5 separate regions of the Homo sapiens genome follow, and regions 1, 2, 3 and 5 are each linked to region 4. Evidence: fine-mapped expression QTL. A gene starts in region 4. Each other region holds a variant in brackets. All regions are shown on one strand. Distances are between the middles of the regions.

Region 1 (5,000 bases), 420 kb after region 4:
GAGCCAGCAGTCCACCTCAGTGATTGTGTGGGGTTCTTTTCCACTCACTTCAGAAGCAGCCCCGTTACCTTTTATTGTCTCACAGAATAACCATAGCAACGGTGCATAATTAGCTAGAGCTCCTGGTAAATCGGTTTTATTATTGTATTTGAGAGGCCGACTTTTGCTGTTTCTGCACAGTGGCAACACTTTCATAGATGTTTTATTTTCTTCTTTGATAACTTTAGCACTTACACAAGTGAAAGATTACTCAGAGGAAGTATTTTGCCAAGAATGAATGAAACAAAAGTGTTTTCTCCTAATGGCAGAGGGAACCCAACCAGCCCATAATGATTTAGTTTTCTTCTCTAGTGAAACTAGGTGGTATGTGGGGGAAGCCGTGGAGGTGGCCTGTTACCCTGAGTAACTGTCCCATGAACTGGCTGGAAACATGAACAGCTTTACGCTTCGGTACATTTTTTGTTTTCAGGCTTCCTTGTGGCTGTTTTCTTGTTTTTCTCTTCTTTACTATGGACCGTGTGTTTTCAAGTCCTAAAGTGTCTTTCACCTCTGCCTCTGCCAGCAGCCAGGGGAAGCAGTCTCAGCACAGTGAAATGTGCTGTGTGTTGATGTCATCAGAAGTCATCCACCTCAGTGAAAACAGCTGCCAGTGCATTTTAGGAGGCAAGATAGTAGGGAATTGGGAAGCAAAAATAGTGCCTACCATAGACTTTAGGCTTTATCTGATTATCACAGAAAAAGCCACATGCCCTCACTCAGCAAACACTTACTGAACAGCAGCCAAATACTAGCCACATTGTTTGCTGTGGGGAACACATGTAAAATTGGGTACACAGTCCCTAATATCCTCACCTTTATGGGGTTCCCCTGATGGGGAGAAACTTACTTGCCCCTTACCTCTACCACTGCCCTCCTCTTACTGAGTGGATGTGTCAGGGCCACAGGAGTCCCAAAGAAGGACCCTTAAGCTTGCCGAGGGCAGAGACAGTAGAATAGAATAACTTTCACAGAAATGAAACAGTGTGTCCAAAGACAGAGAAGCATGGGGCCCTGAGCCAGGCAAGTATGACCAGGCCCTGCAACTGATGCCGTCTGAGCAGAGCACGGGGCAGGCTTCTGGCCAGGTTATGTAGGTCTAGCCTGGGGAGTGGGGATGTCATCTTGAAGGCAGTAGGTTGCTGGAAAATTACAAGCAAGGGCATATGATCATGTAGAGTCTTATAATAAGAGGGCTTTTAGAGAGCTTTCTTCCAGTGGTACTGTGGGAAATAGGTTGGAGGTACAGCATTTATTGCAGTGCTTTGCAGAGGTGAGGGCCTGCCCCATAGGGTAAGGATCAAGAAGAAAGGCTGAAGGGCTTCAAGGTACATGCAGGAGGAATCCTGGACACGGTGGGGAAATGTCTACAGTGCCTTTAGGTTTCTGGCCAATGTAACTGGGTGCATGGGCATGGTGGTGCCTTTTATGGAATGTAGGAAGGACAGCAATGAAGAAGGAAGGCTTTCAGTTCAATTTAGGACAGGTTGATTTGAAGGGCCTCTGAGACAGGGACTTTGTGATGCCTGCTGGGGAAATGCACTTACAGGCCTGAGCTGGAGCAGATGTGAGCATCTCCTGCAGACACTGAAGCCAGGGGTGTGGGCACAAAGGCCCAGGGAACAGGAGTGGAGAGGAGAAGGCCCAGTGCCAAACCTTAGGGCATCGTAGTTGAGCAGATAGTTAAGAAAGGGAACCCCTGAGACATCAAAAGTGAGCAGCCAGAGAAGGAGAAGCAGGAGAGTGGGTTTACAAAATGACAGAGAAGAGAGCTTTAAGCAGTAATTAGTTGGCAGACTAGTCAAGTCAGTTTAGGGATAGGAAGGTGTCACAGGAATTAGCAACTAGGACTTCATTCAGCAAGAACAGTTTCAGGGAAGGGGTGGGGCAGAGGCCCAAAGCTAAGTAGGAGTAAAGGTAACTTAGAGATGACTGTTGACATTTGTCAAAAACAGAGGGGAGATGAAAAATGAGGGAAGTTTAAAACGAGAAGACTTTAATCTTGCTTTTGTTTGGGGAAGGTCCCTGGGGTTGGAGGGTGGGGAGATCCTGGAGAAAGTAGGGCTAAATGGAGCCCCCCACTTTGGGTGGGAGAGGCGAGGGAAAGCCCAAAGCCATGCCTGGGGCCCTT[T/C]TAGCCTGAGCTGGTGACCTGGGCATCTGCACCCTAACCCCAGCTGACCGAGTCAGATCTTTGTCCAGTGTTCTGAAGATCAAATGCCGTGCCCTTTTGCAATATAACACCAGCTGCTTTTAGTCCACAGCCTCTGACATGCGATTTGAAGACACGTTTTATGGAGCAGACATTATCCAAGGGGAGAGAAAGAGACAAAGAGTGCTGAGCTCCAGGTTTAAGAATGAATATGTGGCCGACCCTGTATACCGCACTTTTTTGAAGAGCTCTTTCCAGAAGAAGTGCCAGAAGAGACAGTAGTCTGCATACATCGCTGCAGGCCACAGAGCAGCTTGGGTTGGAAGAGAGAAGATGAAGGGACATCCTTGGGGCTGTGCCGTGAGTTTTGCTGGCATAGGTGACAGGGTGTGTCTCTGACAGTGGTAAATCGGGTTTCCAGAGTTTGGTCACCAAAAATACAAAATACACCCAATGAATTGGACGCAGCAATCTGAAATCATCTCTAGTCTTGCTTTCACTTGTGAGCAGTTGTCTTCTATGATCCCAAAGAAGTTTTCTAAGTGAAAGGAAATACTAGTGAATCACCCACAAGGAAAAGCCACTGCCACAGAGGAGGCGGGTCCCCTTGTGCGGCTTAGGGCCCTGTCAGGAAACACACGGGGACCTCTCTCTCTAGCTCCAGCAGGTGGCACCTCGGTACCCAGCGGGTAGGGCGATAATTTATATATTTTCCACAGTCAGGGAAGGACTCTCACTTATTTGTTTCAAATTGCAGTTTTTATAAAACATTTTTAAAACACAAATGGCATGTATGCTAATGAGATTTACCCGTGTGCTATCTGTATTTCCCTTGTACAGAACTTTTACATTTTTGAATATTCCTATTACTTTTGATTGTGTCTGATGGGAACTGAGTTGTTGGCCTTTGTGAAATGAAATTTTTGGCTCTTGAGAAAGAATTCTTATGAATTGTTATGCGAATTTTATATATTTAAAGAGGGAGATCTGGGGCTGTTATTTTTAAACACTTTTTTTCATAATACATATTCCGAGTAGATATTTATAAAATATATGTTTCTTTCATTATGTGTTTGTAAAATTAGAGTTTAAATAAATATGCTTTGATGCATAGTTTTGAACTAATGTAACATGATTTTTCTTTTTTAAAACAGCCTGAAAATGTACTAGTGTTTAAAAATAAAGATTTCCATTTTCTCCAGTCCTGTCTCTGACTTGCTTATTTGTCTGGGTTTAAACCAGTAGAAAAACAAGTTTATTGGAGAGCTGGCTATCAGGACATACTGCGGCCCAGGTTTTTCAGACCCTCCTTCTGTCGCTGACTTTTTCCATGGTTGTGGCACATGCATGGCGATATTTTTGGAGACAAAGTCCCCTGCCTGCCTACTTCAGTACCAATGGAAGTGTTTTCTTCAACTTCTTCTAGGCCCTGAATACATCTCAGACCCTTGAGTCTGGATCACTTTTCGTTCCAGGATTCCTGGTCCGCAGCTGTCATTAGTAGGAATTAGAGGTCCTCCAGTCCCTCCTTCATTGTATAAATGAGACCCGGAGGATAGACAGGAAAAGGGATGCCCAAGGGCAGGCAGTTTTGGTGACTGCTTCAGTTAACTGGGGCCACCATTTTGCCGCATTGCAAACAATTGCAAAATTGCAAAATCTTAGTGGCCTGCAGCAAAAAGCATTTATTTCTCTCATCTAGGCAGGGCTTGGCTGGACAGCCGTGCTGACCTTGGCTTGGACTAGCTCACACACCTGCTCCGTGGGTCTCCCATCATTCTAGTGGACCCAGTGGGCAGCCCGGATATGTTCTTCTCATGTCAATGGCAGAGGCAGGAGAGCAAGGAAGCCCAGCCAAGTAAGCACATTTCAGTCCTCTATGGGGCACTGGTTAACATCCTATGGGCAAAAGCCCAGAGCCAGGGACTGGGATGGCATTTCAGACTTTTATGGCAAAGGGTATGGGTGTATCCTGGTCCTGAATAGAGAGTGAAGACCAAAACAGTAAGGAAAGAGCCACAGCTAAAACCCAGTTCCCTAGACTGCTCCCTGGCTAGGTGCTCATATTCCAGAGTACCTTGTGGCTGAACTCTGAGCTGGGGTAGAGCCCAGCAGCCTTCTTTTTACAGAGACTAAGCACTCCACATTCTCTACCAGTGTAGTCATATATTTTATCAACTAATCAAGCTTGAATTTTCTATCTCTAGGTTTTGAATGGAACTGACCTGCTCTCTCTATAATATGCCAGGAAAGTAGGCCTGGTTAAGGCATTAAGAGGAATTAATCTAAATAGGATCATTTGTTCTGTACAAGTTTGCCTGTCAGCAAGATTTCTGATTGGCTGCCACAGGGAGAAAATGTGCAGAGGTCTATGCGATCTCAAATACAGCTGTTTTTTATAGTCTCACTTAACATATGTGCCTATAACCAAGTACAGCTGTATATGGCCTTAGTAAAATAGTGCTGGCCACAAATGCACTCTGGCTATTGAGAAAGGCACCTTTGTTTCACTGCATTCTGCATAAAGTGGTTATTAGCTCTATGACCAGACAGACCGTTAAACCATTTTCACTTACTGTGTGGCACCTCAATTGTGATTTTAATTTTTTTGCGTTACACTAGCTGCATGTTTAGTGTATACGTGTAGCATAAAATCAGCTGAAGTCCTTCTAGTATTAAAAAAAAATTGCTTAGCTGTGACAATTCTAATGTAACACTAATTGCAAGCCCTTTCTCTGGAGGTTAAGGGATTAGTAAACACGGCCTGGCATATTTCATAACATTTTAATTCCTTTTTGTGTGTTTGAAATGAGAA
Region 2 (5,000 bases), 34 kb after region 4:
GGGTTTCGCCATGTTGCCCAGGCTGGTCTCCAACTCCTGGACTCGAGTGATCTGCCTGCCTCGACCTCTCAAAGTGCTGGGATTACAGGTGTGAGCCACCGTGCCTGGACCAGATCCAGATGCTTCTAAAGGACTGTGTGTATACTATATAGAGTGAGGCTGCTATCCTGAAGCCCATGAATTTGGGGGTATGTACCTGTCTACACGTGAACAGAGGCAGGTAGGAATGTAGCCTGGAAGGTTTTTCCCTGTTGCAGGCCCCCTCCCTGAGGCAGGGAGAATTCAGAATATTTTCTACCATGTGTTAATATATTTTTGTGCAGATTATTTTCTCCTTTGGATTGTAAGTTCCTAAAGGGTGGTGAGGTTTAAATTTTATGTATCTCCTACTTCCTCATGTGTGCATTGTGAGATAGATGCTCATTTAAACTTTCTAGGCTGGGTGCGGTGGCTCACGCCTGTAATCCCAGCACTTTGGGAGGCCGAGGCGGGTGGGATCGCCTGAGGTCAGGAGTTTGAGATCAGCCTGGCCAACATGGCGAAACCCATCCCTAAAAATACAAAAATTGGCCGGGTGTGGTGGTGTGATCCGCTCGCCTTGGCCTCCTGAAGTGCTGGGATTACAGGCGTGAGCCACCGCGCCTGGCCAAACTTTCTTTAAACAAATAATGACTACATCACTATCTGTAGCCCTGCTCTGTTTTTTTTGTTTTTTTGTTTTTGTTTTTGAGATGGAGTGCAGTGGCGTGATCTGGGCTCACTCACTGCAAGCTCCGCCTCCTGGATTCATGCCATTCTCCTGCCTCAGCCTCCTGAGTAACTTGGACTACAGGTGCCTGCCACCACACCTGGCTAATTTTTTTTTTTTTGTATTTTTTAGTAGAGATGGGGTTTCACCGTGTTAGCCAGGATGGTCTCCATCTCCTGACCTCAACTGATCCGCCCGCCTCGGCCTCCCAGAGTGCGGGGATTATAGGCATGAGCCCTAGCCCTGGCCAGCCCTGCTCTGTTTTAACCTGTTACTATCTCATGACGTTTCACCCTTTTATCTGCCCCATCCCTCATTTCTAATTTTTCTGTCAGGCAGATTAAATTCAGCAAAAAAAAAAAAAAAAAAAAAAAAAAAAGAGGAAAACTTTTTTCCAGGAGGATTTGTTGTTTGTGCTGTCAGATGCCAGGTCCTAATGGATTTAGAAGAAGGTTGGGGTGGGACTCCTTCCTGAGGCAGCCACTTTAGTGCTTCTTACTTACCTTTGCATTCTGTGTGCCTGTCTCATGATAGGTGCTCAATAAATGTTTGCTGAAGGAATCATCCTGTTTATTGACAGCGAGATTAAGCCTGTGTTTTCATAGTAAAACCTGCCTACTTTCCTACTTTGATCTCCTATAGTCTTTCCTTTCTATGCTCCAGACACATTATTAAACTCCTGTCCGTTCCAGCGGTACTTCCAGATATTTCTGCTGCCTAGAGTGCCCTTTCTCTTGTCTGGCCAACTCCCATACCTTCTTATAAGACTTAACTCTCCCCCTTTCTGGGAAAATGATTGCTCATTAACCCAGGTGGAGTTAGTTACTTCTTCCTGTGTCACTCCATCACCCAGGCTGGAGTGCAGTGGCATGATCTCGGCTTACTGCAACTTCTACCTCCCAGGTTCAAGTGATTTTCCTGCCTCAGTCTCCCTAGTAGCTGGGACTACAGGCGTGTGCCACCACGCCCGGCTAATTTTTTATATTTTTAGTAGAGATGGCGTTTTACCGTGTTGCCCGGGGTGGTCTTGAACTCCTGGCCTCAAGTGATATGCCCGCCTCCAAAGTGTTGGGATTACAGGTGTGAACTATCACTCCCAGCCCTTGTGTACATTTTTATATTGAAGTTTGTTCAGCCTCTAGACAGTTTGGAAGGTGAAGACAGACCTCATCCCTTTCTGTCTCCATCGTCATTCTTTTCCGTGTTTTGCCTGGTGCTTGGCGATTTTGCTGAATGGATGGCTTGTTAATTACTGTAGGAAGGCATGATATGACAATCTGTAAGCACACCTGAGTAAACTAACGATTTTTAACATTCTCTACTCAGCCTAGACTAGGCCTTTGTACAGGTACGTATGTGAGTGAGAGTCTGTTTCAGAACTGGTATATAGAAGCAACATCTTTTGTAAACTTGCAAGGTTAGAAAATTCATTTTTACGGCCAGACACAGTGGCTCATGCCTGTAATCCCAGCACTTTGGGAGGCCAAGGCGGGTGGATCACCTGAGGTCGGGAGTTCGAGACCGGCCTGACCAACATGGAGAAACCCCATTTTTACTAAAAATACAAAATTACCTGGGTGTGGTAGACCATGCCTGTAATCCGAGCTACCCGGAAGGCTGAGGCAGGAGAATCACTGGAACCCGGGAGGTCGAGGCTGTGGTGTGCCGAGATTGCGCCATTTCACTCCAGCCTGGGCAACAGGAGTAAAACTCCGTCTCAAAAAGAAAAAGAGAAAAGGAAAATTTATTTTTACGTCTGGGCTCGGTAGCTCACATCTGTAAATCCCAGCACTTTGGGAGGCAGAGGCTGGCGGATTGGCTGAGGTCAGGAGTTCTAGATCAGCCTGGCTAACATGGTGAAACTCCATCTCTACTAAAAATACAAAAAAGGTAGCCCGGCATGGTGGCGGGTGCCTGTAATCCCAGCTACTGGGGAGGCTGAGGCAGGAAAATCGCTTGAACCTGGGAGGTGGAGGT[T/C]GCAGTGAGCCGAGATTGCGCCGCTGCACTCCTGCCTAGGCAATATAGCGAGACTGTCTCAAAAAAAAAATTTTTATTTATTTTTTATTTATTTATTTTTTGAGACGGAGTCTTACTCTGTCGCTCAGACCAGAGTCTCACCCTGTCACCCAGGCTGGAGTGCAGTGGCGAGATCTTGGCTCACTGCAACTTCAGCCTCCCAGGTTCAAGCAATTTTGCTGCCTCAGCCTCCTGAGTAACTGGGATTACAGGCATGTACCACCACACCCGGCTAAGTTTTGTATTTTTAGTAGAGGTGGGGTTTCACCATGTTGGCTAGTCTGGTCTCGAACTCCTGACCTTGTGATCTGCCCGTCTTGGCCCCCCAAAGTGCTGAGATTACAGGCGTGAGCCACCGCACCCGGCCTAGAAAATTTATTTTTACTTGGAAGGGTTTTGAGGAGGCTAACAGTATAGTCAGATCAGTGGTTCTCTACCTGGCATAGGGAACTTGGCAAGAGGAATGACTAGAGGCCCTTGTTTGTTCAGGGGTTCAGGCAGAGATGAGGGAGTCTCCCTGAGACTGGTAGAAGGGAATGGGAAGTGACTGAAAGAGAAGGGTTCCTGCTGGGGGAGCTGACATACTATTTGTTAAAAATGACCTAAAGCATATAATAATTCAGTTCTGTTGACCCTACTGTCTTCTCTCCAGACACTGCCCTAACCATCATGGAGGTGGCCGAGGTGGAAAGTCCTCTGAACCCCAGCTGTAAGATAATGACCTTCAGACCCTCCATGGAGGAGTTCCGGGAGTTCAACAAATACCTTGCATACATGGAGTCTAAAGGAGCCCATCGTGCGGGTCTTGCAAAGGTGATTATCCTTCGATGCTTTAAATGAAAAACAATCACTTGGCCTTTAATTTATGTTCTTAGTTTTCACGATTTGGGACATTGTTTCTGAAGGAAGAAATTTGCAAAATCTTTGTTCTCGTTAATCCATGTGAAACATTTGATTTCTTCAAATAGTAATTGTCTTATTTTTCCTTCAAGTATAACTATTCATACTAGGTTGTCTTCTAAGGCTTAAAAAAAAAAAATCAAAACCAACCAAGGGTGGCTGATGGAAACCAAGGAGATCCATGTATGGGTTTCAGAGGTGTGAGAGTATTCATAGTTTTTGTCAGTTTTTTTGTAGACAACAATTATTAACCTGAAGGTTAACCACAATTTCTCTCTCCTATCCTTTTTCTTTCCTTCTATGTTTTTTCTTTTCTTTCTTTCTTTTTTTTTTTTTTGAGACAGAGTTTTGCTCTTGCCGCCCAGGCTGGAGTGCAATGGCGTGATCTCGGCTCACTGCAATCTCCACCTCCCGGGTTCCAGTGATTCTCCTGCCTCAGCCTCCCGAAGTAGCTGGGATTACAGGCACCCACCACCATGCCCCGCTAATTTTTTTGTATTTTTAGTTGAGACGGGGTTTCACCATGTTGGCCAGGCTGGTCTTGAACTCCTGACCTCAGGTGATCCATCCGCCTCGGCTTCCCAAAGTGCGGGGATTAAAGGCGTGAGCCACTGTGCCCGGCCTCTTTTTTTTTATATAACACTTATTGATATATTTTATCATATAATAATATTGTATAATGCATCCATTTAAAGTGTGCAATTCAGTGATTTTGAGTATATTCACAGAATTGTGCAATCATTACCGCTATAGAATTCTGTAACATTTTCATCATCCCCCAAAGAAACTTCATATGCATTAAGCAGTCATTCTCCATTCCCTGCTATCACCCCCAGCCCATAGGCAACCACAAACTGACTTATTCTCTCTCTACATTTGCCTATTCTCTTTTCTTTCTGGTTATTTGTTCAACAAATGTGGAGATTGCCTGCTATGTGCCAGACACTATGCCAGGTGCTAGAGGTAGGGATATGGGGGAGCAGAACAGACGATGTTCCTGCCCCCATGGAGCTTACATTCTAGTTGTAGCATCTTAGAATGATGAAATAAGGACATTTAAGCACAGATCCAAAGGATAAAAATAAACCAGTCTTTTCAAGATATGGGGACAGAAAGAATAGCAAGTCCAGCGGCCTGGAGGCTGACCTGTACTTTGTGGCTGGGAGGAATAGGAAGGTGGTCAGTGGACTTGTCTGGCTATGGTAAGGCATTTGGGATTTTAAGTGTAGAGGGAAGCACTGACAGGCTTAAAGTGGGAGAGGAAGATATGGTGGCTGTTTGTTTCTTTCTTTTGCTATTTTTGGGACATTATTTTGAAAAGATCACACTGGCTCCT
Region 3 (5,000 bases), 290 kb after region 4:
ATGGATTCAAATCAATATACACAGTGTATCTTTTACTACTCTGAATCCAGGAATTTTCATATAGATTTACAGAGACTTTTCAGACACACAAACCTGTTGGACATTTCTAGTTGTTTGCATTTATTACTGCCTAACAAAAGTTATACAGATACATGATTCTTTCCAGTTGTTTTGGTATCGTTTTCCTCAGAAAAGTAAAAGCTATGAAGTTTCACACCTCATTAATAGTAGATCAGTTAGATGGATTCCTTGTAAAGCTAGGAAAAATTGTCAAAATTTGTTAAGGAACATCACTTTAGTGGACAGGGTAAAGAGGTTTCGTATATAAACTTTGGAGGAAAAAACTCCAAATAACTTCTACCAATTTAAAAAATGTATTAATGCAGAAAATTGAGAGGACAAGCTTGAAACAATTTAGGTCAAGAGAAGGCAGTGCACTGCTCTCTGGTCCTCCTTTTCCTGGTCTTTTTCATGAGAGTGTAGTGAGAAATAACTAATAAAATCTATATTTGTAGCAATTGGAGTCATCTTGGAGTAGAAAATTACATTCTAAGCTAAGACACATAAGAGTGCTGAAAGGTTAAGCTTATGTGGGAAGGATAAAGCAAAACGTTTCTTGGTGCTGTTTTCTCGGGCCGGATAGCTGGGGTTGATCAGGACACTTTTTATAACACTATTTGCCCACAGAAAGAGTGAGGCGCAAGTGTTACTTTGGTGAAAAGAGTATCGTTTAAAAATAGCCTCTTGCTTATCCTTGTAGTAGAAAAAAGCCTGCCCAGACTCCATTCATTAGCCACCCTGTATCCAGGAGTGAATTCCCAGAGCACAAGGCTACACCGTCGTGTGTGCATTCTCTGCTCTAGAATTCTTGCATATACTAGGTGTGTGGACTAGGTTCTCTGGACTGCTAGGTTCTCTGTGTCACAGCTTTCCTTTGATGACAGTGTCAATTTAAAATTATACCAGGTTCATTTCATGATGGTTCCCTCTGGGAGAATTTTATACCCTGAAATTTGAGGGGTGTACCTCTACCATTTCCCCCTCCGCTGTCTTTCTTTTTGAACTTCTCAGAGATAGACCTTCATGTAATTCCTGATGGTTTTAATTTTAGAATGAAAAATCAGGATCTCTGAGAATATTTAGATGAATGGTAATGACTTTTGTTATGTGGGTCTGGTCATCATGTGGTATTTTCTTTTCCCCCCAGGAATGCTGTCTCTGCAATTTGAGAGGAGGTGCTCTTAAGCAAACGAAGAACAATAAGTAAGTAATACATTAATTGTGTTGAATTTCATTATTTTTCTTTCTCCATTCTAGAACCTTTGGATGACAGTTCGCTTTACCTCTCATTGTACACGTGGTTTCAAAGCTTTTGCTGCTCAGATCTGAGGTTGGAATTCTGTGCTTCAGAGACTTCTACTGTTTGCACTCTCATCTCGGCAGGGCAAGAGCAGTCCAAGTTATGCTTCTCTTCTTTGTATTTGACACCATGAAAAATAACCCCTCTTTTACTCACAGAGTTTTGAAAATGGAGTTAGCCCATATCATCCAGGTGCCATTAGAATCCTGGTGTTTAATATGATGAATGCTATTGGTCTGTTAAAACAGGGCATACCTGAGAAAGTGAAACCGTGATCTTCAGATAAATCAGTCATAGCAATGATAATAAAACAAAACCATTTACTTTTTACATTAGCAAATTTATGAGAATGTAAGTGTACTAAATTAGAAAAGATAGGGAGAAAACATTGATGTTAAGATTTAAAGGGATCAGGTGGAGAATATGAAGAGAGTCTTGAAAGAGAGTCATAAGTGAACATAAAAGGAAGGCAGTCTAGTTTTTATGACTGTTCTGCATGGATTTTATTTTTTTTTCATGACCAGGTTTTAATATTGAAAATGGGGCCAAAGCATATTACAGGGTCCGCTGGAATAGAGACATGTCAAAATAACCTGGGCGGATTTTGCAGGCTGGCACTTGAGGGCCAGATTCATGTCTAAGATATGTTTTGTTGGACCCAGGCACCATTTTATAAATTGCATCTAAAATTTAAAATTGAGAGATTTTTACATAAAAATCCAGATTTTCATCTTTAATTGAAAATGATTGTATATCCCTATAAGGCAGTAATAACAAGTTGGGATAGAACCCAGTGTCAGTGGGGCAGGTACTCCTCAGTTCACCATGACTTCCTAGTATATGTGTATTTGCTTACATTCCGCCTGGCCCCCTGGGCACTGGAGTTAGGACTCCTGGTGTAATGTAATGGTGGATTTAGCATAATTCTTTACATGTGCACATGTTTCTGATTGCTGGGAAGGAGGAGTGAAGGTATTTATCATTATTACATTAATAAAATTTGTTGTAAGGAACTGTAGGGTTTGCTTAATTTTTGAAAGAAGATGTTCTTCCACAGTCCTGGTTGATATGATTCGCACTATACTGAAAGTCTTCACTAGTTCTTGGATATTGCACTGGATGCCATACTGTGAGATGGTTTAGGTGGTTCCTGTAAAAACACGGGTGATAAGACGTTCTCTTCCTATGCTTGGACCACAACAAAAAGAAATAGTGTTTTCTGTGGAATGATAGTATTTATTTCGATGTGGAAGAATGCCCTGGTG[G/T]GATCGATACTTGTTCTCTCTTCCTGTGGTCTTGAAAGACAGGATAGAGTCTGATACTGTTTGAGTGAAGTAAATATGCTTTGGCTTAAAAATAGGTTGATGGATTTGACAATTCTTTCAAGATCTCTTCAAACCTCATGATTCTTTATATTTATTTTGGGATATAACATTTATGAGACATTTAATAGTATTAACGGGAAAGTTGTCATTTTTCAGAAAGTGAAAAAAGTAGGAAACTAGGGTATGAGATAAACTTCATTTCTTTTTGTCTCTGGGTTTCATTGATTATAGTAAGATTGCAGCAAGAAACAATTTAATTAAAGATTAGCATTAATTCTTTTGGAAAACTTTTGCTACTTAAACAAGTTTGCTTCATGACATTTGTATTATTTTAAAAGGTTGTGTGCTATACCCAGTTCATACCTTTTATTAATTGAACTAATCTTTTGCCACATATTGATTAGCTTAAGTACTTTAAGCACATACATGCATATTCCAGCATCAAATGAAATAAGAAACCCACATTTCAGTATTTTGCAGATCAAGTGTAGAAAAATATGTGCACGTTAATAGGATAGAGTCGTGGGCCTTTATCAGCTCTTCATGGCACAATGTTGTTGGGCAGCTGTGGTACTGAGTCTGTCCAGGTATCATTCAGGAGGTTTACAGTTCAGAATCTGTTTGTGATGGATTTAGGCTTTTGGCTTTCTTGCTCATCTGTGTATTTCCCATCTGTGAGAACTGGCATCACCAAGTTGAAGTATGTAAGTTTAGGGAACTTTTGTTTATGTTTAATGTCTCCTTTCCTGTAGGTGGGCCCATGTCATGTGCGCCGTTGCGGTCCCAGAAGTTCGATTCACTAATGTCCCAGAAAGGACACAAATAGATGTAGGCAGAATACCTTTACAGAGGTTAAAATTGGTGAGTGGCAAAGCTTCTTTTTTACCTCATAAATTAGTGTTAATTTCAAGTTCTGAATTTTTCCATTAATGCACACATTCCCAAGGTATATTTTCTCCTAGCTTTCTTTTATTTTTCTACCCTTATTTTCCTTTAGCCTAAATTTATTTATTCTTACAAATTCTTTTCCTGTTATATTGTAAGTTTGCATATAACCTTCCTCAATTTCTGTCTGAAATGAGGAAAAAGATAGTAATACATTTCCTGAATTAATGTGAACTTTCAAACTATAGGTTATCTGGTAAGATTTGTCAGTACTGGAGCTGAGCCATCTAACTCTATTTAAATTGTTTAGATTTTTCTCTCTTGACTCTCTTTGGTTGGTCTTAACCTAGCAAAATGTATCTAACCTAATTTCATTATCTCTTCACCAAGAAGAGACACACAGAGAAATAAAGAAGCTTTTATTTTTACGAAGATATTTTCTCACTCTTGAATAGGTACAAGTCACTTAATATGCCAAACTCTCTGGCTTGTTCAGAAACTGTGTAAAAATCTTCCCATTGGTTTCTGTTAAGAGCATTTTTCATTGAAAATATAGGCCTTTATTGTCTTTAACATTGAAGTAACTTTGTAGTTTTATTCAATTATGAGCCAGCAGATCCTTAGTTTAGGCCCTTATATTGCATACCTAATTAGAACTTTCCCCAAAGTTCAACTGCATGACCTTAATGTATTGGAGCACGTCTTACAGGTGGACTTAAAACTCTAGAATTTCCTGAGTCGTTGTTATTTTCCACTGAAGGTCTTTCCACTGTACAGCATTTCAGGCATCATCACTATGACTCTTTTTTCTTGACTGTTGCTTGTTTTCCCACTGCTCTTTTCCCCAATGGCGAGCTGGGTGTGCCGTCTCTGGGGCTCTCTTATAGGAACTCACAGTCTAGCCTACTGTATTTTGTTTTCGGAGAAGTGAAAGTGAACACTGTTATTTGCCATCATACCTCCATCAAGAATTTCACTTCACTAGGAAATATATGGGCCTTTCATGGAACTGATGATTACTGTGGCTGATGTGAGTGTTGGGCTTAGGATGCTCAGCATGTGGTAGTTGGAAGTTTTGTAATCTAAGATGGAAATGAGTGGGCCATTTAAATGGCCCTCTAAAGGTCACAGTGACTGTCAGAAGAAGTAAGAAGAGAGTATAATTCTTCAGCTCCTGGACTTCCATAGGAAAGCTTGAAATCTTATACCCAGATTACCAAAAAAAAAAAAAGACACCAAAAAACAAACAAAACGTTTGTAAGAATTAGGACTATAAGATATGATATCCAAAAAAAAGTTGAACTACCACATGTTAAATAATTTAATGTTTGGTGTGACAAATATTAACAAATGTTAACATTTTAATATTTTTTTCTGATTATAAAAGTAATAGATATTTGTCAAAATTCTACACCACCTTTTAAAATCAC
Region 4 (5,000 bases):
TAAAAAAAAGTCATACTCTAATTCACAATGGTAAAGAAATGTTATTTGTGCATCTGCAAATTCTGAAGAAAATGGATTTCAGGTTTCCAGATTTTTTATTCTGGTGCACAAGATTTCTAATATAGCATATGGCTTCCAAAAGACCCTAGCTGCTTGATTGTGGACATATTTCTTAACCGCTATGCTTCAGTTTCCACATCTGTAACAATGAGGTATTAATAGTACCTATTCATTGAATTATTATAAGTATTTATTAATACATGTGAAGCTCTGAAGACAGTGTGTAGCTCACATTACTGTTCTAAGTAAGTGTTAGGTTGCATATTTATTATTTTAGCATATCCAATTTACTTGTAAGGATGGTTGGGATCCTGACGTTACATGCACACATTTGGAAAATTCCCAGTTGAGTATACGTTAGCCAAGTTCAGAATTGTGTGTGGCCGGGTGAAGTGGCTCACGCCTGTAATCCCAGCACTTTGGGAGGCCGAGGCGGGCGGATCACCTGAGGTCAGGAGTTTGTGACCAGCCTGGCCAACATGGCGAAACCCTGTCTCTACTGAAAATACAAAAATTAGCTGGGCGTGGTGGCGGGCGACTGTAATCCCAGCTACTCGGGAGGCTGAGGCAGGAGAATCTCTCGAACCCGTGAGGCGGAGGTTGCAGTAAGCCGAGATAGCGCCATTGCACTCCAAACTGGGCGACACAGCAAGACTCCGTCTCAAAAAAGAGTGTGTCTGTGTGTGTAGCGGAACTTTGTTTTTAACAACTAAAGAAATATGGTGACCCAATAATCCCGTTAGCCTTAGCTCAATTAATCACATTCCATCTGTCCTCACAATGTTCACCCCAGTGAGAAACGAGTTCAAGCGCGTGGTAAGCGGTGTCGATATATTTTTAAAATTCTGTTATCAGTATAATGTAACAGAAAATTCAGCATATTAGCCCAACTTTGCTCACTGGTGTGAAGATATGCCCAATCTTTCTTAGCTAAGACGTTAGAGAAAACGCCACAAGGGACCCAGCTGGGAGCTCTGTAGGAAGTTTAAAAAAAAAATCATTCAGCTTTGCAAAACATCTGATGCTCAACCATCTGTCTTTGGCAGTACAGGGGCTTAAGGTCTGGTTGGTTCCTTCTGACACCTCGGAAGGCGGAGTTACAGAGGAAAAGCAACAAGTTGTAGGAAGTTAACTTATCTAGTCTCAGACGCTGGAGGCACCTGCATTTCTAGTCACTTCAGTTCTGGCCAAACTGTTATCAACTCTAGTTTCTGAGGGACCGCCAGCCCAGGATTCCTATTGGGGTCACCTTTGTGCCTCCCTATCTTAAGAGCACACTTGGGCGGGTCGGGGCGGGACGTGCTGGGTGTAGGTGACTCAACACCGGACAGTTTTGCTTCCAGAGGCTGACACGCTCCTGCGCGGTAGTTGTTAAAGGGTTGGGACACGAAGATACTCTTCGCCTATTCGGGATCTCCCATTGTGGGAAGGAGGCTCAGTGGTCCCGGCCACCGGGTGAAGGGAGAACGGGAACACAGCGCTGTCATCGCCGGAGAGCTGCGAGCCCCGACTTTCTCGCCAGGCTCTCCAGTACATTCCGAGGCTCCACCCCGGTAACGCCACGCTGACGTCCGCGCGTCGGAGGCCGCCATAGGTGCGCGTCGGCGCCCAGGAGGACGTGTGGCGCGTGGACTACATCAGGTCCAGCCCTGCGGGACCCCAGCCAGCGCTTCCGGGCAAGGTTCTGTGCACCTGTTTTCTCCTTCTACGCGAGTATCTTTCCCCTCCGGAAAGAATGGGATATGCCTGTGTCCAAAGGACAAGAAGATGCGCGCCAGCAAGCCTAAGTTAACCACAGCGCGGAAGTTGAGCCCAAAGCAAGAGCGTGCCGGGCACCTTTAAGCTGTTTGTAAGCCCACGTGACTCACCAAGTGCGGGCCCCAGCGGTCACGTGACGGCGCGCGCGCCCTCGCGCAGGGAGAGCCGGCGGTGCGCGCGCCTTCGCCGCTGCCTCCCACCCACCCCCTCGACGGGAGGGTGAGGCGCGGCGCAGTGATCGGGCGGCCGGGGTCCTGTGCGCGTGCGCAGCGAACAGCTGTCACCTAGTGCGGAACAAGTCTCCCAAATTTCCCAAATCTCCCTGGGCCGGAGGCCACTGTCTTCTCTTCCTCCTCCACCGAGTCGTGCTCTCGCCCCAACCCGCGCGCCAGGTAACCGCTTTTCCGGAGTCTGGGGGCCAGGGCGGGGGGAGGGTCCGGAGAGGTCTTCCCGGCACTGCCCCCCTCCGCGTGGGGCACGGGGGTGCGGGCGTCCGGGCGAGCGGCGACGCTGGGGCAGAGACGCTCCGTCCGTGACTGCAGCGACTGTCAAGCTGGGGAGGGAGCGGCCGGCCGCGGCCGCAGGGGAGGGATGCGGGGGCCGGTGACAGCCCGCTCCGGCCCTTACCGAGGTTCGGTACCCGCGCTCGCCGTTTTCCCGGGATCCGGAGTCGGGGTCGCCTCCTTGGGGCAGAGGAGCGCTCGGGCGGTCCTGGGATGCGGACCTCTTAACGCCGCCAGTCGGCTGTGGCGGACTCCAGGAAGGCCGGGCCTGGTGCACCCCTCGGGGCCCTCCCTTCCCTGGGAGTGTCACGACCCGCGGGGTGAGGGTGGGAGCTCCTCTCCTGACCACCCGTTGCAGGCAGTCATCCCGTCATTCGGGGTCGTCTTCAGCCCTCGCGGCTGTCCTTTTGGTGTTTCTTTCCCCCGGCATGGGGCCATTTCTTCCTGCAGTGCCTGGAGGAACCATGATGCGGTGTAGACGGCGGGTGCTTAAATAAATGCGAGTTGGATTAGGGCGCGTGGACTGCCAGGCACAGAACGTGGCGTGGAGTGGGGACGTGGAGGAGGGAGCCAGACAGGCCGGGGCTGTAGGCAGGAGCTTGGGGTTTTCCTCTGTGCTCCGCCAGTAAAGCCAGCAGCCGGGATTCAGATGCTTTCCGCGTGGACTTGATGCTGGGCTCCCCCTTTGCTGCGCGGTGCAAGCCTGCGCTGGCTGGCTCTGATTGTGGGCAATACTACCGGGAGGGGTTTTGTCAGGTTCCTTCTTCCGGAAGAGACAAGGTAAACTTTTTTTTGCGCTTGATAAACTAACCCCGAGAGGTGATTTATAAAGCACTGTTCGGAAATGTAGGTTAGAAAAGCAGAGTCACTTTTATCCTGGTGAAAGTTACTAGTAGGTTCCGGCCACTTAGGTTCACACTAAACTCTGCCCTATTTTCACCCATTTCAGTTTGCGGTATTTAAAAAAATGTCTAAATTCCGGGCAGCTTGGCTTTACTGTTTCTATGGCAACGGTGACTAATATTCTCATTTCGAAGTGTTGTGGTTGAAAACTAGTGGTTTTAATTTTTAAAGGTCCATTTTTTATTAGGAAGCAGTCGGCTCTGCTTTGCGATTATCGCTTGCTTTCTTACCTTGCTGGCCTCCGCGCAACCCGCCCATAGTTTGTTTTGGAACGGATTACACGGTTGTTCGGGTTTTTTAGGTGCTTTTTCTCCCAATTTCAGTGTTATGAAAAGTTTTCACATAAGCTTTACAGTATCCCGCAAACTTGGTAATACAGTACAATTTAAACCGAAGACTTATTTCTTTTTATTAACAGACTTTAGTCAGTTGCTTTTCTAAAGTTGAAAATCAGACCCGGCGCCGTGGCTCCTGCCTGTAATCCCAACACTTTGGGAGGCCGAGGCGGGTGTATCACCTGAGGTCAGGAGTTCAAGACCAGCCTGGCCAAAATGGCGAAACCTCGTCTGTACCAAAAATTCAAAAATTAGCCAGGCATGGTGGCAGGCGCCTGTAATCCCAGCTGAGGCAAGAGAATCACTTGAATCCTGGAAGTGGAGGTTGCCGTGAGCCGAGATGGCACCACTGCACTCCAGCGTGGGTGACAGACTGAGACTCCATCTCAAAAAAAAAAAAAAGTAAAAATATAAATAAATAAATAAATAAATAAATAAATAAAAGCTTTTAGTAAATGAATAGTCTTGTGCAACCATCACCACAATGAATTTTTGAATTTTTTTAATCCCCAAAAGAAGCTCTGTTCCTATTAGCTGTCATTGCCTAGTTCCCTCCAATTCTATCCCCTTCTGTCCCTAGGCAACCACTAATCTGCTGTCTGTCTCAATAGATTTGGCTATTCTGGACATTTTATATACATGGAATAATACACTATCTGGTCTTCTGTGAGTGACTTCTTTCACTTGGCATAATGTTTTTTAAGGTTCATCCATGTTGCAGCCTGTATCAGTACTTCATTCCTTTTAATGGCTAATATTCTATTATGGATACATCACATTTTGTTTATTCATCAGTTGGTAGACATTTGTGTTATCTCTGCTTTTGGCTGAGTAATGCTATGAATATTTGTGAACTAGTTTTTGTGTGGACGCGTGTTTTCTCTACTCTTGGGTATATATATATATATATATAATGTAATTGCTAGGTTAAACATCTGTTGAATGACTGCATGCGTAAGGAGGGATAGTTAGTCTTGGGTGATACTCTTTTTTATTTATTTATTTATTTATTTATTTATTTATTTATTTATTTTTTGAGACGAAGTCTCACTCTGTTGCCCAGGCTGGAGTGCAGTGGCACGATCTCTGCTCACTGCAAGCTCCGCCTCCTGGGTTCACACCATTCTCCTGCCTCAGCCTCCTGAATAGCTGGGACTACAGGCACCCACCACCATGCCTGGCTAATTTTTTTTTTATTTTTAGTAGAGATGGGGTTTCACTGTGTTAGCCAGGATGGTCTCGATCTCCTGACCTCGTGATCTGCCCACCTCAGCCTCCCAAAGTGCTGGGATTACAGGCGTGAGCCACCGTGCCTGGCTTGGTGATACTCTTTCAAGCCTTGAAGGGGCCTGTTGATCTTTCCCTATTCCACTGCCAACTTCAGTTCTCCAGTTCTCTAAAGTGGGGCTTTATTCTATGGTTAATGCTGTGTTTTCCTTTC
Region 5 (5,000 bases), 46 kb before region 4:
TCCCGGGTTCAAGTGAGTCTTCTGCCTCAGCCTCCTGAGTAGCTGGGTTACAGGCGTGTACCCCCACGTCTGGCTAATTTTTTTGTATTTTTAGTAGAAATGGGGTTTCACCGTGTTAGCCAGGATGGTCTTGATCTCCTGACCTCGTGATCTGCCTGCCTTGGCCTCTCAAAATGTTGGGATTACAGGTGTGAGCCACCACCCAGCAAGGCTCTTTCATTCTTTTTTTTTTTTTTTTTTTTGAGACGGAGTCTAATTATGTGGCCCAGCCTGGAGTGCAGTGGCACAATCTCGGCTTACTACAACCTCCACCTCCCAGGTTCAAGCAATTCTGCTGCCTCAGCCTCCAGACTGGCTGGGATTATAGGCGCACACCACAATGCCCGGCTAATTTTTCTATTTTTAGTAGAGATGAGGTTTCACCTTGTTGGCCAGGATGGTCTCGAACTCCTGACCTCAGGTGATCTGCCCACCTCAGCCTCCCAAAGTGCTGAGATTACAGGCGTGAGCCACTGTGCCTGACTGGCTCTTTTTTTTTTTTTTTTGGGGGGGACACAGTCTTGCTGTGCCACCCAGGCTGGAGTGCAGTGGCATAATCTCGGCTCACTACAACCTCTGACTCCTGGGTTCAAGCAATTCTCCTGTCTCAGCCTCCTGAGGAGCTGGGATTACAGGCGCCTGCCACCACACCTGGCTACTTTTTGTATTTTTAGTAGAGACAGGGTTTCACCATGTTGGCCAGGCTGGTCTCAAACTCCTGACCTCAGGTGATCCACTTGCCTCGGCCTCCCAAAGTGCTGGGATTACAGGCATGAGTCACAGCGCCCGGTCTTCTTTCATTCTTAAATTAAAAAGTGTACACATTTCAGGGCAGGAACGGTGGCTCATGCCTGTAATCCCAGCACTTTGGGAAGCCGAGGCAGGCGGATCGCTTGAGCTCAGGAGTTTGAGACAAGCCTGGTAACATGGCAAAAATCCTGTCTCTACTAAAAATACAAAAATTAGCCAGGCCTGGTGGTGCATGCCTGTAGTCCCAGATACTTGGGAAGCTGAGGTGGGAAGATTGCTTGAACCTGGGAGGTTGAGGCTGCAGTGAGCTGAGATGGTGACACTGCACTCCAGCCTGGGCAGACCTGTCCAGACCCTGTCTCACACACACATACACACTATATATATAGAGAGAGTATATTATAATAATATTATTATATAATAATATATATAATATTATATATTATATAATATATATAATTATATAATATTATATATTATTATATATTATAATATTATATATTATAATAATATTATATATTATAATATTATATATAATATTATATATTATATATAATATTATATATTATAATAATATTATGTATTATATATTATATATGATGATGTGTTGAATTGCAACAGTGATTCTTGAAGGCATAAGTTAAATGCATAGGTCCTTTAATTATATAAATGCACAATATTAATTCATGTAAGTATCACATCACATCAAAGGCTGATTTTTTCAAAATATGTCTTAGTTCCTTAATCACTCCCAACATTCCAATAAAAAGCAAGCAGAAAATCCACTCTGCTTTTGATCATAAAGTGAAGACACAGAGAAAATTAAAGCCATAATACAAGTTAGAGACTGATGTTTTATATCATGTGCCCCCACCATGCATTTGCACCAGTTTTTTGCTGACGATGAAATATGAAGCAAACAGGCACACACAGATAGTGAGTCAGCCCAAATTAATGTAAACTATCATGGTAATAACTACTTAAAATTCATTAGGAGACCACAAGAAGTACAGAGCGTGTTCAGAAACCCAACAGCCAGCCTCCAAAAATAAAGCGAAAGAGAAAATATACAGGTCATTTCTTCTCCAGAGAATCAAGGGAGATTAAAATATTTCAACTGGGCTGGGTACAGTGGCTCAAACCTGTAATTCCAGCACTTTGGGAGGCCAAAGCAGGTGGATCACTTGAGGTCAGGGGTTCAAGACCAGCCTGGCCAACTTGGTGACATCCCATCTCTACTAAAAATACAAAAAATTATCTGGGCATGGTGGCAGGCACCAGCTACTTGGGAGGCTGAGGCAGGAGAATCGCTTGAACCCGGGAGGCGGAGGTTGCAGTGAGCCACTGCACTCCAGCCTGGGCGACAGAGCAAGACTCTGTCTGAAAAAAAAAAAATAAGAAAATCAACTGAAGGTAGACTGTTAGAATTTGTCACCCTTCTGTAAAATTTTTACAAGTATTTGCATGCTAAGAAGACAACTTTCAGAGTTGGCTAACAACGGTTAATGAGCATCCGCCAGATACAAAGCCCTATTCCATGTCAGCTGGGGTTGGTATTTAGAAATCCAAGGTAAGCAGGAGGAGAGTCTGTGGCCATAGCATAGTTCAGTATAACTACTAGCACTTGTCTGATGCAAGTAATGTAACTAAATGTAAACAGTCATAAACAATAAGAATTTATTGGCTCATAAAAAGGCAAAATTATTGTCAATATAGAATCATTTTTCAAAATCAATGATAAGGCTGGGCACAGTGGTTCACGCCTGCAATCTCAGCACTTTGGGAGGCTGAGGCGGGTGAATCACGAGGTCAAGAGATCAAGACCATCCCGGGCCAACATGGTGAAACCCCCGTCTCTATTAAAAATACAAAATTTAGCCGGGCATGGTAGCGTGTGCCTGTATCTCAGCTACTTGGGAGGCTGAGGCAGGAAAATCGCTTGAACCAGAGAGACAGAGGTTGCAGTGAGCCGAGATCGTGCCACTGCACTCCAGCCTGGTGACAGAGCACGACTCTGTCT[C/CAAAA]AAAAAAAAAAAAAAAAAAAAAAAATCAGTGATTACTGTCATTCTATGTCTATATTTTCCAGAGTCCACTGGAGTTTAAAACATCAAAATTTGACTCTATAATTTGCTATATTGTTACTATTATGAGCAATTGAGAAACTCATTTTTTACTAGTAATTAGTGTCTCTGAGGTGATTTCAAAGGTAATCATCTACATAATTGTCTTTAAAAGGATACAGCTATTGTGCAAATGTGGTTTATTATCAGAACTGAATGAATTATTTCATCTGGCAAAAAAATGTTAATTACAATTGAAATTTAAAGGTAATTCTACTTCAGGGACATAAATATAGTCATCTGGGTCATAATTTAGTAAATTGCCTAATTGGCTTACTTCAATAGCCAAGACTGTGAAATAATTGCAATATAACATCTGTTTCATACAGTGTTTTACTGCTTTAAAAATGCTTCTACTTTTTTGTTGTTGTTTTTGTTTTGTTTTTTGTTTTTTGAGATGAAGTCTTACTCTGTAGCCCAGGCTGGAGTGCAATGGCGTGATCTTGGTTTAATGCAACCTCTGCCTCCCGGGTTCAAGCGATTCTCCTTCCTTGGCCTCCCAAGTAGCTAGGATTACAGGCGTGCGCCACTGCACCTGGCTAATTTTTCGTATTTTTAGTAAAGACAGGGTTTCACCATGTTGGTCAGGCTGGTCTTGAACTTCCAACCTCAGGTAATCCACCCACCCCAGCCTCCCAAAGTGCTAGGATTACAGGCGTGAACCACCGCGCCCAACCAAATGCTTCTACTTTTAAAAATCAATGTATTGATATTCATAACTCTTCAGGGAAGTCAACAGCACTGATGTAGAATCCTTATTTTTCAGGTGAAGAAACTTGAGACACAGCTCTATAGTACAGTTGTCTCTCAGTATACACAGACGATTGGTTATTGGTCTTATAACCATTACAGGACCCCCAAGTATAGCAAAATCCAAGCATACCCAAGTCCTGCAGCTGGCCCTGAGGAATAAGAGTATAGGAAAATTGGGCCCTCCCCATACAGGGTTTCACATCCCGTGAATACTGTATGTTCAATCTGCATTTGGTTGAAAAAAAGCAGTGTATAAGTCGACCCATGCAATTCAAACCCATGTCATTCAAGAGTCAACTGAGGCTAGGCTCGGTGGCTCACGCCTGTAATCCCAGCACTTTGGGAGGCCGAGGCGGGTGGATCACGTGAGGTCAGGAGTTTGAGACCAGACTGGCCAACACGATGAAACCCCATCTCTACTAAAAATACCAAAAAGTAGCAGGGTGTGGTGGTGCATGCCTGTAATCCCAGCTACTTGGGAGGCTGAGGCAGGAGAATTGCTTGAACCCAGGAGGCAGAGGTTGCAGTGAGCCGAGGTTGCGTCATTGCACTCCAGCCTGGACAATAAGAGCGAAACTCCGTCTCAAAAAAAATAAAAAAAATAAAAAAATAAGTCAAACAACTGGGTAAATAGTAGAGCTAGGTCTGAAGTATAGGCCTCCAGACTTCCAGTCCAGTTCTCCTTTGCACTAAGAGTACAGAAGACTACTTTAAAAAGCAGATCCTGCCCAGTGTGGTGGCGTGTGCCCTAGTCCCCAGCTACTCCAGGGAGGCTGAGGCCAAAGGATCTGAGCCTAGGACTTGGAGACCAGCTTGGGCAACATAGCCACCCCGCCTATTTAAAAAAAAAAAAAAATAGAGAGAGAAGCTGATACTGGCTCTGTGTGACTTTGAGCAAATTACTCAATCTCATAGTGATTGAGCAAATCACTCAATCTCATAGTGAGGCAGTTAGTTTATCTGTAATATGGGACTATTCACTGGGTAATAACTTCACTGAGGGTAATAGGTGCTAAAACCTGTGGAGCACTTAGAACAGTGCTGGACAAATACTAAATTCTGTATAAATGTTGGCAATTCTACACCACTTTAACTTCTGAGATGGAAGCCTTATATTGTATACCTTATTAGTAATATACTCAAGGACACATGTAGGGCATGTTTCAGTTTTGTGGATATTGAAATACAGGGAAAACCATATTTTTGACTCGCAATATTCCCATGTTTTCGGCTTCATTATATTCCCACAATGTCCTTCCAACCAAGTAAACATGTCAAAACTGTGCCAAGAATACTTCCCTGGGATCACACACCACTGAGATATTTAATTATTAAAGAAGCT

Alleles and levels. Alleles are on the strand shown, and positions count from the first base shown. SD is a standard deviation of normalised expression in the study named. Not every link is listed here.
With allele CAAAA in place of C in region 5, the expression in monocytes after Pam3CSK4 of the gene that starts at base 1,980 in region 4 is higher (large effect, 0.80 SD a copy in Quach 2016).

Evidence for each region. PIP is the estimated chance that this variant, and not a neighbour inherited with it, causes the effect.
Region 1: its variant is the best candidate, but not a certain one, in a credible set for the expression of KDM4C in blood mononuclear cells (TOPMed, PIP 0.56).
Region 2: its variant is the best candidate, but not a certain one, in a credible set for the expression of KDM4C in whole blood (INTERVAL, PIP 0.75).
Region 3: its variant is the best candidate, but not a certain one, in a credible set for the expression of KDM4C in blood mononuclear cells (TOPMed, PIP 0.65).
Region 5: its variant is the best candidate, but not a certain one, in a credible set for the expression of KDM4C in monocytes after Pam3CSK4 (Quach 2016, PIP 0.83).

Annotation. Positions count from the first base shown.
Region 1 is chr9:7,172,263-7,177,262 of GRCh38, forward strand. KDM4C (lysine demethylase 4C) reads left to right here. Exons shown (of 22, transcript NM_015061.6): 22 at 2,291-3,386. The coding sequence ends at 2,467. Among named protein-coding and RNA genes, the nearest start is that of KDM4C, 420 kb to the left of the region's middle. The variant T/C (reference allele first, on the strand shown) is at 2,168.
Region 2 is chr9:6,789,556-6,794,555 of GRCh38, forward strand. It overlaps KDM4C (lysine demethylase 4C), which reads left to right. Exons shown (of 22, transcript NM_015061.6): 2 at 3,417-3,577. The coding sequence starts at 3,434. Among named protein-coding and RNA genes, the nearest start is that of KDM4C, 34 kb to the left of the region's middle. RefSeq lists an enhancer at 1-243. The variant T/C (reference allele first, on the strand shown) is at 2,726.
Region 3 is chr9:7,045,655-7,050,654 of GRCh38, forward strand. KDM4C (lysine demethylase 4C) reads left to right here. Exons shown (of 22, transcript NM_015061.6): 16 at 1,208-1,263; 17 at 3,438-3,546. Among named protein-coding and RNA genes, the nearest start is that of KDM4C, 290 kb to the left of the region's middle. The variant G/T (reference allele first, on the strand shown) is at 2,626.
Region 4 is chr9:6,755,994-6,760,993 of GRCh38, forward strand. KDM4C (lysine demethylase 4C) reads left to right here and starts at 1,980. Exons shown (of 22, transcript NM_015061.6): 1 at 1,980-2,210. RefSeq lists enhancers at 71-782, 1,514-1,873, 3,074-3,293 and silencers at 1,914-2,153, 2,244-2,413.
Region 5 is chr9:6,709,875-6,714,874 of GRCh38, forward strand. No RefSeq gene overlaps it. Among named protein-coding and RNA genes, the nearest start is that of LINC02851, 8.1 kb to the left of the region's middle. The variant C/CAAAA (reference allele first, on the strand shown) is at 2,810.